2 linked regions of the Homo sapiens genome follow. The protein of the gene in region 1 purifies or fractionates together with the protein of each later gene. This does not show direct contact. Each region holds a gene or a part of one and is shown in the gene's direction. Other genes may lie near its edges.

Region 1 (5,259 bases):
GGGGATCTTGTTGAAATTAAAGTCAGGGGCCTTACACTCAGACATTCTGATTCAGGATGTCTGCAGTAAGGCCTGGAAATCCGGATTGCTGGCAAGCCCTCGACAGGTTTGGAGACAGCGTTGAGTGACTTTGAACTGATCTGATTTGGCAGGCAGGTTAAACACGAAGCCTCCACATCTACTTTACTGCAAGCAGATTCCCATGTGCTTATTTTATTTGTTTTCTCTTTTGCCAAAGGTTTATTTAAACACAGATTCTCATCACCTTAACAAGAATTGGTCAATTGTTTATTCAAGTTTAACTTGACCTTTTGGTCAATGTTGTTTTTCTTCAACAAGGTCATAAAACAGTTGTTTAGAAGACCACTATTAAATTAGAAGCACATTTACTTATTCAAGAATTATTTCCTTAACATCTTCTATGCGCCAGGCAGTGTGCTTAGTACCACAGAGAGCAAGAAAGATAAGACCTCTCTGCAGTTATATTCTAGTGCAATGGAGGTAGAGTGGGGTGAAAAAGACAACAGAGAAGGAAATAAATAAAATCATTTCTCAGTGTGATTAGTGCTATGAGAAAAATAAGCAGGGTTCTGCAGGAAATATTTTGAAAGGGAGGGAAATAACCTAGACAGGGTGAATAGGGAAAGCCTTTCTACAGAGGTGACTTTCCAACTGAGAGCTGAAGAATGAAGAGCCAGTCATGCTGGCTGTTAAGACCTGGGTAACAGTGAAAAGTGGTCAAAGAATTGCAAACCAGGAAATAACACTGAACTGGAAGGTGAGACAAGAGTGGTCAGAAAGATGGTGGGAATAGTAAAGGCTCTGGTGATAACCAAGTTTGATGTGAAGTGGAGAGCTCCTCTGTTAAAAACAAAGTGGTCAAGGAACTGAGAGTTGATTGGATGTCAGAGTCACTAAATGTAATGACAGGAGCTGAGTTAGAAGCTGGAGTGTGTAAAGTGGACAGATCAGTGATAAAGGTAGATGACAACAAGAGGAGGGGGAAAGGGAGACTTAAGGAGAACACATTGATTTCACAGAAGCAGAGGGCTTTGCTGGGTGATGTCCTGGAAGCAGCCGTGGGCTGCAGGGAAATCACTCCCTATCTTCTGGCTGGAGAGACAAGTAGTTCAAGGAAGTCAAGTTTCACCTACTTGAGAAAGTGCAAGAGACACAGAGTGTTGGGAGTCAGCCAAGTTTCATTTACAGAGAGTCTTGGAAACAAACATTCCAGAAACCCCTGGAGATTAAAGGGGAATTTGATGGCCACAAAGCAGAAAGTCCAGAGGCCACAGGGGAAGGTGGATTTTGTTTTTATTTCTGATTGTCAAGCAGAGAAGAGACCTGGTGAGGGCATATGTAGGGACACACAAATTATAGTCTGAATAATAATGGACAAATGGGGAGGCTTTAAATTCACCAGGTCCCTGGGATTAAAGTACTATAACTACTACTACTGCTGCTGCTGCTAAAACAACAATAATAGTAGTTATTATTTATAGCAGTGTAATAGTATAAATATCATGGCAGTTTTATATTTGGCCTGTGCTAAGTACTTTCCATGCATGTGCACCCATAACCCTATGGTCTGTCAAACCACAGTCAAATTTTATATTTTCAGTGACAACTTTATGTACTACAAATCACTGATCAGAGTAAAGAAGCACAAAGGGCTTTGAAGTAATCCTGGCAGTCTCTGGAGAAGACAGCAGACAAATGGTTTTAGAGTTAAAACTCCAAATAGACGGTCCAATGGTATGGAAGATTTGGAGTGGCCGTTTCAGGGGGTGATATGGTTTGGCTGTGTCCCAACCCAAATCTCATCTTGAATTGTAGCTCCTATAATCCCCACGTGTCATGGGAGGGACCAGGTGGGAGGTAATTGAATCATGGGGGTGGGTTTTTCCCATGCTGTCCTCGTGATAGTGAATAAGTCTCACAAGATTTGATGGTTTTATAAAGGGCAGTTCCCCTGCACACTCTCCCTCTTGCCTGCCACCATATAAGACAGGCCTTTGCTCTTCCTTTACCTTCTGCCATGATTGTGAGGCCTCCCCAGCCATGTGGAACTGTGAGTTCATTAAACATCTTTTTCTTTATAAATTACCCAGTCTCGGGTGTGTCTTTATTAGCAGCATGAGAACAGACTAATACACGGGGCTATACACGGGGCTGTACACGTTGGCATATGGTATTCAGGGGGTTATTCACACAGTCCTCTTGCACTAGAAAAAAAAGCAGTGCCCTTCAACCTCAGCTGGTGGAATGACCATGATGTCTGGAGGTGGCTCCATGAACGGTGCTTCATTCCTCTGTTCTATTGCTTAATTTGCTAGAAAATTACTAATTATCCTTGAAGACCTAATTCCATTCATTCATTCACTTGTTCATTCCACAAATATTTGAGAGAAATTATTATAGGCTGTAGACCATTCTAGACACTATTGGGGATACAATGGTTAAAAATTGTGTATACACACACACACATATATATGTACTATATATATATATATGCAATCATGTGTATCATGTATATATATATTTGCAATCATGTTTATATTCCCTAGGAAACTTTCCCCACCACTCCCTCCACCTCTAGGCTGATGACACCATGCATTATGTCCACAGCACAGAATTTATTCATTTACTTTTCCAATAACATGCTGACAACCCTATATGTATATATCCAGTCCATTCCTCTCCACACCATCCTTTTCAAGTCTAAGTGAGATCATGTTACTTTTCTACCCAGAGCCCTACAAAAGTTCCCTAGTTTACCCAGAGTAAAAGCCAAGGTCCTTAAAATTTTCATCCCTACCAGAGGATGCCACCTTGTAAATCCCGTCTTCCATGTCTTCTTTTACTGTGAGAGTTGTAGGAAGGATGTGGCAAGATGAACAGTATGTGGTAAATGGACTCATTCATCCTACTGAAAAGATAACTACATTTTTGCTCTACCTTGATACAGTTTTATAGAGCAGGACGTCAAGTAGACTTTTCTGGATTCCTTAGTCATTCTTCACTTGGGAAAGAGGGAAGGTCTCATATGTGAATGAGATTGTATACTATGATCATAATAAATTCTTAAATTATTGTGATAAATGCTTTAGAAAAATAAAACATTTTCCCAGGAAAAAAAAAATACATGATTTTTGCAAGCACTTAGAAAACTGAAGTGGTCATCGAGATTTATAATTAGCCTTGCCAAAATTTTAAGTTGTAATTTATGATTTTGAACTATTCTGTGCATTACAGAGTGCTCCCTAAAAACAATAAAAGTTTCAATCTCAAAACATCTCCATTTTGTATCTACATTCAGGTGCACAAACTAAAACAGTACTTGAAGATGACATACTTATTAATATCCCAAAAGTCATAGATGCTCAGAATGGTTGAGTTACATCCTATTGCATTACAGGCAAAGCCAGGACAAAAATCCAGGGCTCTTTCCTCCCTATCCTGTAGATGCCATTTCTCATTGCTACATTTTCTGTGAAGAAGCTCACTACAAAATGTATGTTCAGCATGCCTTGCTAAATTGTTCTGGCAGCTTATATGAAATATGCTCTCCTTGATACTATTTTAAAACAAATATGTGAAGTTCCTTATCCAGTATACCCACACTCGTGACTGTGCTTTCAACATTTCTCCTTCTTTATTTTAACAGAACCCCAAGTTTCACATGCCTGAGGATGTACGAGAAAAAAAGGAAAATCTTCTACTCAATTCTGAGAGATCTACTAGGCTCTTAACAAAGACCAGTCATTCACAAGGAGGGGATCAAGCTTTAAGTAAGTCCACAGGGTCACCAACAGAGAAGTTGATTGAAAAACGTCAAGGAGCTAAGACTGTTTTTAACAAGTTCAGCAACATGAATTGGCCAGTGGACATTCACCCTTTAAACAAAAGTTTAGTCAAAGATAATAAATGGAAGAAAACTGAGGAGACCCAAGAGAAACGAAGGTCTTTCCTTCAGGAGTTTTGCAAGAAATACGGTGGGGTGAGTCATCATCAGTCACATCTTTTTCATACAGTATCCAGAATCTATGTAGAAGATAAACACAAAATCTTATATTGTGAGGTACCTAAGGCTGGCTGTTCCAATTGGAAAAGAATTCTGATGGTACTAAATGGATTGGCTTCCTCTGCATACAACATCTCCCACAATGCTGTCCACTACGGGAAGCATTTGAAGAAGCTAGATAGCTTTGACCTAAAAGGGATATATACCCGCTTAAATACTTACACCAAAGCTGTGTTTGTTCGTGATCCCATGGAAAGATTAGTATCAGCCTTTAGGGACAAATTTGAACACCCCAATAGTTATTACCATCCAGTATTCGGAAAGGCAATTATCAAGAAATATCGACCAAATGCCTGTGAAGAAGCATTAATTAATGGATCTGGAGTCAAGTTCAAAGAGTTTATCCACTACTTGCTGGATTCCCACCGTCCAGTAGGAATGGACATTCACTGGGAAAAGGTCAGCAAACTCTGCTATCCGTGTTTGATCAACTATGATTTTGTAGGGAAATTTGAGACTTTGGAAGAAGATGCCAATTACTTTTTACAGATGATCGGTGCTCCAAAGGAGCTGAAATTTCCCAACTTTAAGGATAGGCACTCTTCCGATGAAAGAACCAATGCTCAAGTCGTGAGACAGTATTTAAAGGATCTGACTAGAACTGAGAGACAATTAATCTATGACTTTTATTACTTGGACTATTTAATGTTTAATTATACAACTCCATTTTTGTAGTTTGCATTCATTTTCTAAAACCCTGTATATACTTAATGATGATAAGTTCAAATCAGCTGTAATTTTTCTATAATTCTCTGTATGACAGAAATTTAACCAAGTGCAGTTGTCTTGATTTAATGTAGATTTTTACCAAATAGTATGACACCAATTGGCACAAAGTTATAGGAAAATCACCTACAGGAGATGTAAACAACTTGAGTTGCTCTAAAATGTTTGGAAAAGAGCTGCTTTTGCATTATGAATTATATTGTTGAAGCAATAACCTAGCCAGCTGTTGCATTAGCTAAAGCAGCCTCTTGCAATGGTAGGAAAAAAGGATCTCAAATAGCATGAGTGTATGTCTATATCCTGAAATTTATTGTCTAAAATGCATGAATATATTTTTAGCAGTCTGTGGCATATTAATCAAACTGTTGAATTGTTTTCTTACACCCTGGAAATCTTTCTATCAACTATAATGATAAATCCATTTTGAAGTGATATTTTGGACTTAGGCA
Region 2 (5,259 bases), on another chromosome or scaffold:
GGTTCCAAAACAGCATTTTCTTCTTGAAACAACTGCTGTCAGCAGTTAGATTTCCAGGCTAGCACAAAAACCTGTTTGACTCATAAATCCTTGTAGTGAGGGTGTCCCAGAAAGTTGGCCAAGTCAAGAGCAGTTCTTGTGGAGTGGAGGCGGTGAACAAATAGGGGGAAAGTGGCGCTCGTGATGAAAACGGAAAACAATAGTTGATTTTATTGAGCTTCACGCTTGAGGAAATGTAGGTCTCACTTGGAAAATTAAGAGGCAGGTGGGTGTTTGCGGGACTCGACGGCCTTGCATCTGGATTACCTCCAGTCTGCAGGTGTGGTAGGATGACAGCAAGAGGGAGTGTTGAGCACACAAGCCCAGCACTTGGGGGGAGGCTGTGTCATGGCAGGAAGGTACAGGGCCTCCTCCAGCAGCTCCACTTTCTAGTCCGTATATACCTGTTGACAGTCACCGCCCAGCTTCAGCCGTTCTGGACAAGTGGGTGTCAGTAATGCTTTAGCTTGTAACCCCAGGATTTCATTTCTACTCTCTGTGCTGGTGGCTTATCATTTGCAATCTTTCCTGGCCCACAATTGCAAAGGTCCTAGCATTCATGCATGGGAATGGGGAAGTGAATAAAATGTGTGTGTGTGCTTCAGACAGATGGTGAAAAGTGTTCAGAGAAAAAGCGAAATTGAGGCAGATGGGATGTGAGGATGCCACGCACACTTTGTGCAACTGAAGAGGGAGGTGATGCCTGGCCTTCCCATTCAGAACTGCCCAGACCCCTGTTTTCTTCATCTGCCCCTAAGTAGGTGGAGCCACATCTAAAGAAAGCCCCCTTCAGACCTGTAATCTGCTTAGGTTTAATGAGGTCACAGGGTGAAGCCCTGTGGTCACATGGCTGTAGCACTTTCCAGAAAGTCTTTCTCAGTTTGTATACTGCCAGTGTGCATGCCAGCACTGGGCATTATTTACCGGGGTGAGATGAGATGGGTAATTTAGTGGGCAGTAAGTTTTTTCCCACTCAGGGTTGAGGTTGAATGTTTCCCCATTTCTGTCACTAAATAAATTTTCCTTTTTCATTTAGTCTTGCAACAAATATTGATTGAGTTCTTACATGGGAACGAACTCGTGTATTATGTTTGTATTTGTGTGTGTGTGACTTTTGTTCATGTTCTTTGCACATTTATTTATTGGCATCTTAATGTTTTCCTTGCTACTTTGTATAAGTTCGTTATGAATATTTTCTTATTGTGCTCTAGTATTTTTTTCTAATAAAACTTCCTAATACAGAGGATTTTTTTTTTTTCTTTGAGGCGGAGTCTCACTCTGTCCCCCAGGCTGGAGGGCAGTGGCGTGATCTCAGCTCACTGCAACCTCTGCCGCCTGGGTTCAAGCGATTCTCCTGCCTCGGCCTCCTGAGTAGCTGGGATGACAGGCGCCTGCCACCGCGCCCAGCTAATTTTTTTTGTATTTTTAGTAGAGACGGAGTTTCACCATCTTGGCCAGGCTGGTGTTGAACTCCTGATGTCGTGATCTGCCCGCCTCGGCCTCCCAAAATGCTGGGATTACAGTCGTGAGCCACCATGCCCGCCCTACAAAGGTTTTTTAAAATTAGATTCATGCTATGAGGAATTTGAATGCACTTTGGTGCAGCTAGCATTGTGTGTCCTTTTAAAGCAGTTAATATATCAAACAAATGAATTAAGTGTCAGTCCTGACTCACCCTTGTCAAAAAATACAGTGGTGACCGCGCACGGTGGCCACGCCTGCAATCCCAGCACTGTGGGAGGCCGAGGCACAATGGTGGCCGCGCGCAGTGGCCACGCCCGTAATCCCAGCACTGTGGGAGGCCGAGGCATAATGGTGGCCGTGCGCGGTGGCGACGCCTGCAATCCCAGCACTTTGGGAGGCCAAGGCGGGCGGATCATCTGAGGTTGAGAGTTTGAGACCAGCCTGACCAACATGGAGAAACCCCTCCATGTTGGAGAATTAAGAGGCAGGTCTCCACTAAAAATACAAAATTAGCTGGGCGTGGTGGCGCACACCTGTAGTCCCAGCTACTTGGGAAGCTGAGGCAGGAGAATTGCTTGAACCTGGGAGGCAGAGTTTGCGGTGAGCCGAGATCGCGCCACTGCACTCCAGCCTGGACAACATCAGCGAAGCTCCATCTCAAAAAAACAAAAAATACACTGGTTGTGGTATTGGAGATACTTGTTAAATATATATATATGTGTGTGTGTGTGTGTATATATATACACACACACACATACATAGGTGAAGATAATTGTTTAAAGTTGGTTTTAATATTTAATATTATTTTATAAATTAGTTTACTGCTTAGTCATCAAATTGATCTTCGCAAATAAATATGAACAGAGCTTCTAGGCTGGGTGCAGTGGCTCATGCCTGTAATCCCAATGCTTTGGGAGGTCAACACAGGAGGGCCACCAGAGCCCAGGAGTTCAAGGTCAGCCCGTTCAAGGTAGCGAGACCCTGTCTCTACAAAAAATTTAAAAATTAGCTGGACATAGTGGCTCATGCCTGTAGTCTCAGCTACATGGGAGGATCCCTTAAGCCTGGGAGATTGAGGCTGCAGTAAGCTGTAATTGCACCACTGCACTCCAGCTTAGGTGACAGAGCAAGACCCTACCTCTCAGTCTCTCAATATCTCTATTTCTCTCTCTCTCTCACACACACACACACACACACACACACACACACACACACACACACACACACACAAAATAGAGCTTCTAGGTAATGTAGCAGTAATAATACATTTTTTTTAACATTTTGTGATTTTGATTTGTTTATTTTTTATTAATGTTTTTGTAGAGACGGGGTCTTGCTGTGTTGCCCAGGCTGGTCTCCAATTCCTGGCTTCAGGTGATTCCCCTGCTTCGGCCTCCCAAAGTGCTGGGATTACAAGTGTGAGCCACTGTGTCTGACCTTTATTAACTGTTTATTTTGAAATAATTGGCTGGGTGCGGTGGCTCACACCTGTAATCCCAGCACTTTGGGAGGCCGAGGCGGGCGGATCACCTGAGGTCAGGAGTTTGAGGACCAACCTGGTCAACATGGTGAAACCCCATCTCTACTTAAAATACAAAAATTAGCCGGGTGTGGCGGCGGGCACCTGTAATCCCAGCTACTCAGGAGGCTGAGGCAGGAGAATTGCTTGAACCCTGGAGGCAGATGTTGCAGTGAGCCAAGATTGCGCCATTGCACTCCAACATGGGGGACAAGAGCGAGACTTCGTCTGGGGAAAAAAAAAATAATCATAGACTAATTCATAGGAAGTTGTAAAAATAGTACAGAGAGACCCCTGTGCCCTTCACCAGCTCCCTCTGTGTTAACATCTTTTTTTTTTTTTTTTTGAGATGGAGTTTGGCTCTTGTTGCCCAGGCTGGAGTGCAATGGCGTGATCTCAGCTCACCGCAACCTCCCCCTCCCAGGTTCAAGTGATTCTCCTGCCTCAGCCTCCCGAGTGGCTGGGATTACAGGCATGCGCCACCACGCCGGGCTGATTTTTTGTATTTTTAGTAGAAACGCGGTTTCTGCATGTTGGTCAGGCTGGTCTCAAACTCCTGACCTCAGGTGATCCGCCCGCCTTGGCCTCCGAAAGTGCTGGGATTACAGGCATGAGCCACCATGCCCGGCCCTTGTGTTAACATCTTACACCTCCATACACCTCCATAGTACAATATCAAAACCAGGGAATTGAAATACTGCTAACTAAACTATAGACCTTATTCAGGTTTCACCAGTTTTACATGTGTGTATGGCTCTATGCAGTGTTACCTCTTAAATTAATTATATAACCACTAGCAAGACACAGAACTGGTCTTGAACTCCTGGACTCAAGCGATCCTCCCGCCTCGGCCTCCCAAAGTGCTGGGATTACAGGCACAAGCCACCACACCCAACTGTATTTTAATTTTCTTAACAGTGTTTTGGCTAGGCACAGTGGCTCATGCCTGTAATCCAAGCACATTATGATGCTGAGGCAGAGAGATTGCTTGAGCCCAGGAGTTCGAGGTCAGCCTGGGCAACATGGCAAAACCTCATCTCTACAAAAAAATACAAAAATTAGTCAGGCATGGTGGTGCATGCTTGTAGTCCCTGGTACTCAGGAGGCTGAGGTGGGAAGATTGTCTGAGCACAGTAGGTAGAGGCTACAGTGAACCATGATTACATCACTGTACTCCAGCCTGGGGACAGAGTAAGACCCTGCCTAAAACAGGAAAAAAAAAAAAAATTCAGGGTTCCATTAAGTATAAAAGATTTTAAACACCACTAAGACTTTTTCCAGCTGGGTGAGGTGGCTCACGCCTGTAATCCCAACACTTTGGAAGGCCAAGGTGGGAGGATCACTTGAGACCAGGAGTTTGAAACCAGCCTGTGCAACATAGGGAGACCCCATCTCCACCAAAAAAAAAAAAAAATTTCCAGGTGTGGTGGTGCATGCCTGTAATCCCAGCTACTTGGGAGGCTGAAGTGGGAGGATTGCTTGAGCCTGGAAGGTTGAGGCTGCAGTGAGCTGAGATCACACCACTGTACTCCAGCCTGGGCAACAGTGGGAGATCCTGTCTCACAAAAAGACAAAAAAAAAAAAATTTCCAGTGCTTTCTTCTAAAAAGTTTCATAGTTTTAGTCCTCACATTTAGGTCTATAATCCATTCTGAGTTAATATTTGTATGTAGTATGAGGAAGTGGTTGGGCTTCGTTCTTTTAGACGTGGCTGTCCAGTTGTTCAGAACTATTAGGTGAAAAGATGATCCTCCTCATGTTGAATCACCTCAGCACCTGTCAAAAATTCATGGACTGCATGTGTGTGAGGGTCTGTGGCGTCTACCTTTGGGCTGGCCGTCCTGTTTCCTTGATGTGTATGTCCGTCTTGATGCTGCCACGCTGTCTGGTTCCCGTAGTTTTTCAACAAGTCATGAACTTAGCCCTTCGCGTTTGTTCTTGTTCAAAGTTTTTTCAGCTGGTCTAGATACTTTACATTTTCATGTGAATTTTATCAGCTTGTCCTTTCCTTTAGAGAAGCCTGCTTGGCTTTTGATGGTTGTGTTTGGGTAACATTTGCAGATCAATTTGATGAGAACTAAGATCTCAATATTGAGTCCTCCAATCCATGAACATGGTATGTCTCTCCATTTATTTAGGTTTCCTTTCATCTCTGTCAGCAATATTTTGTAGTTTTCAGTGTGCAGTTCTGACATGTCTTTTGCCAAATATATCCCCACATATTTTATATTTTTAATG

What was found.
Region 2: the proteins of CHST9 (region 1) and NADK purify together in Homo sapiens (co-immunoprecipitation; one large-scale study listed by IntAct). This does not show direct contact.

The regions. Positions count from the first base shown.
Region 1 is NC_000018.10:26,915,759-26,921,017, reverse strand, and holds part of CHST9 (carbohydrate sulfotransferase 9), read left to right. Parts: intron 1-3,667; coding exon 3,668-4,759; 3' UTR 4,760-5,259. UniProt on the Homo sapiens protein: Catalyzes the transfer of sulfate to position 4 of non-reducing N-acetylgalactosamine (GalNAc) residues in both N-glycans and O-glycans.
Region 2 is NC_000001.11:1,771,151-1,776,409, reverse strand, and holds part of NADK (NAD kinase), read left to right. Parts: intron 1-5,259.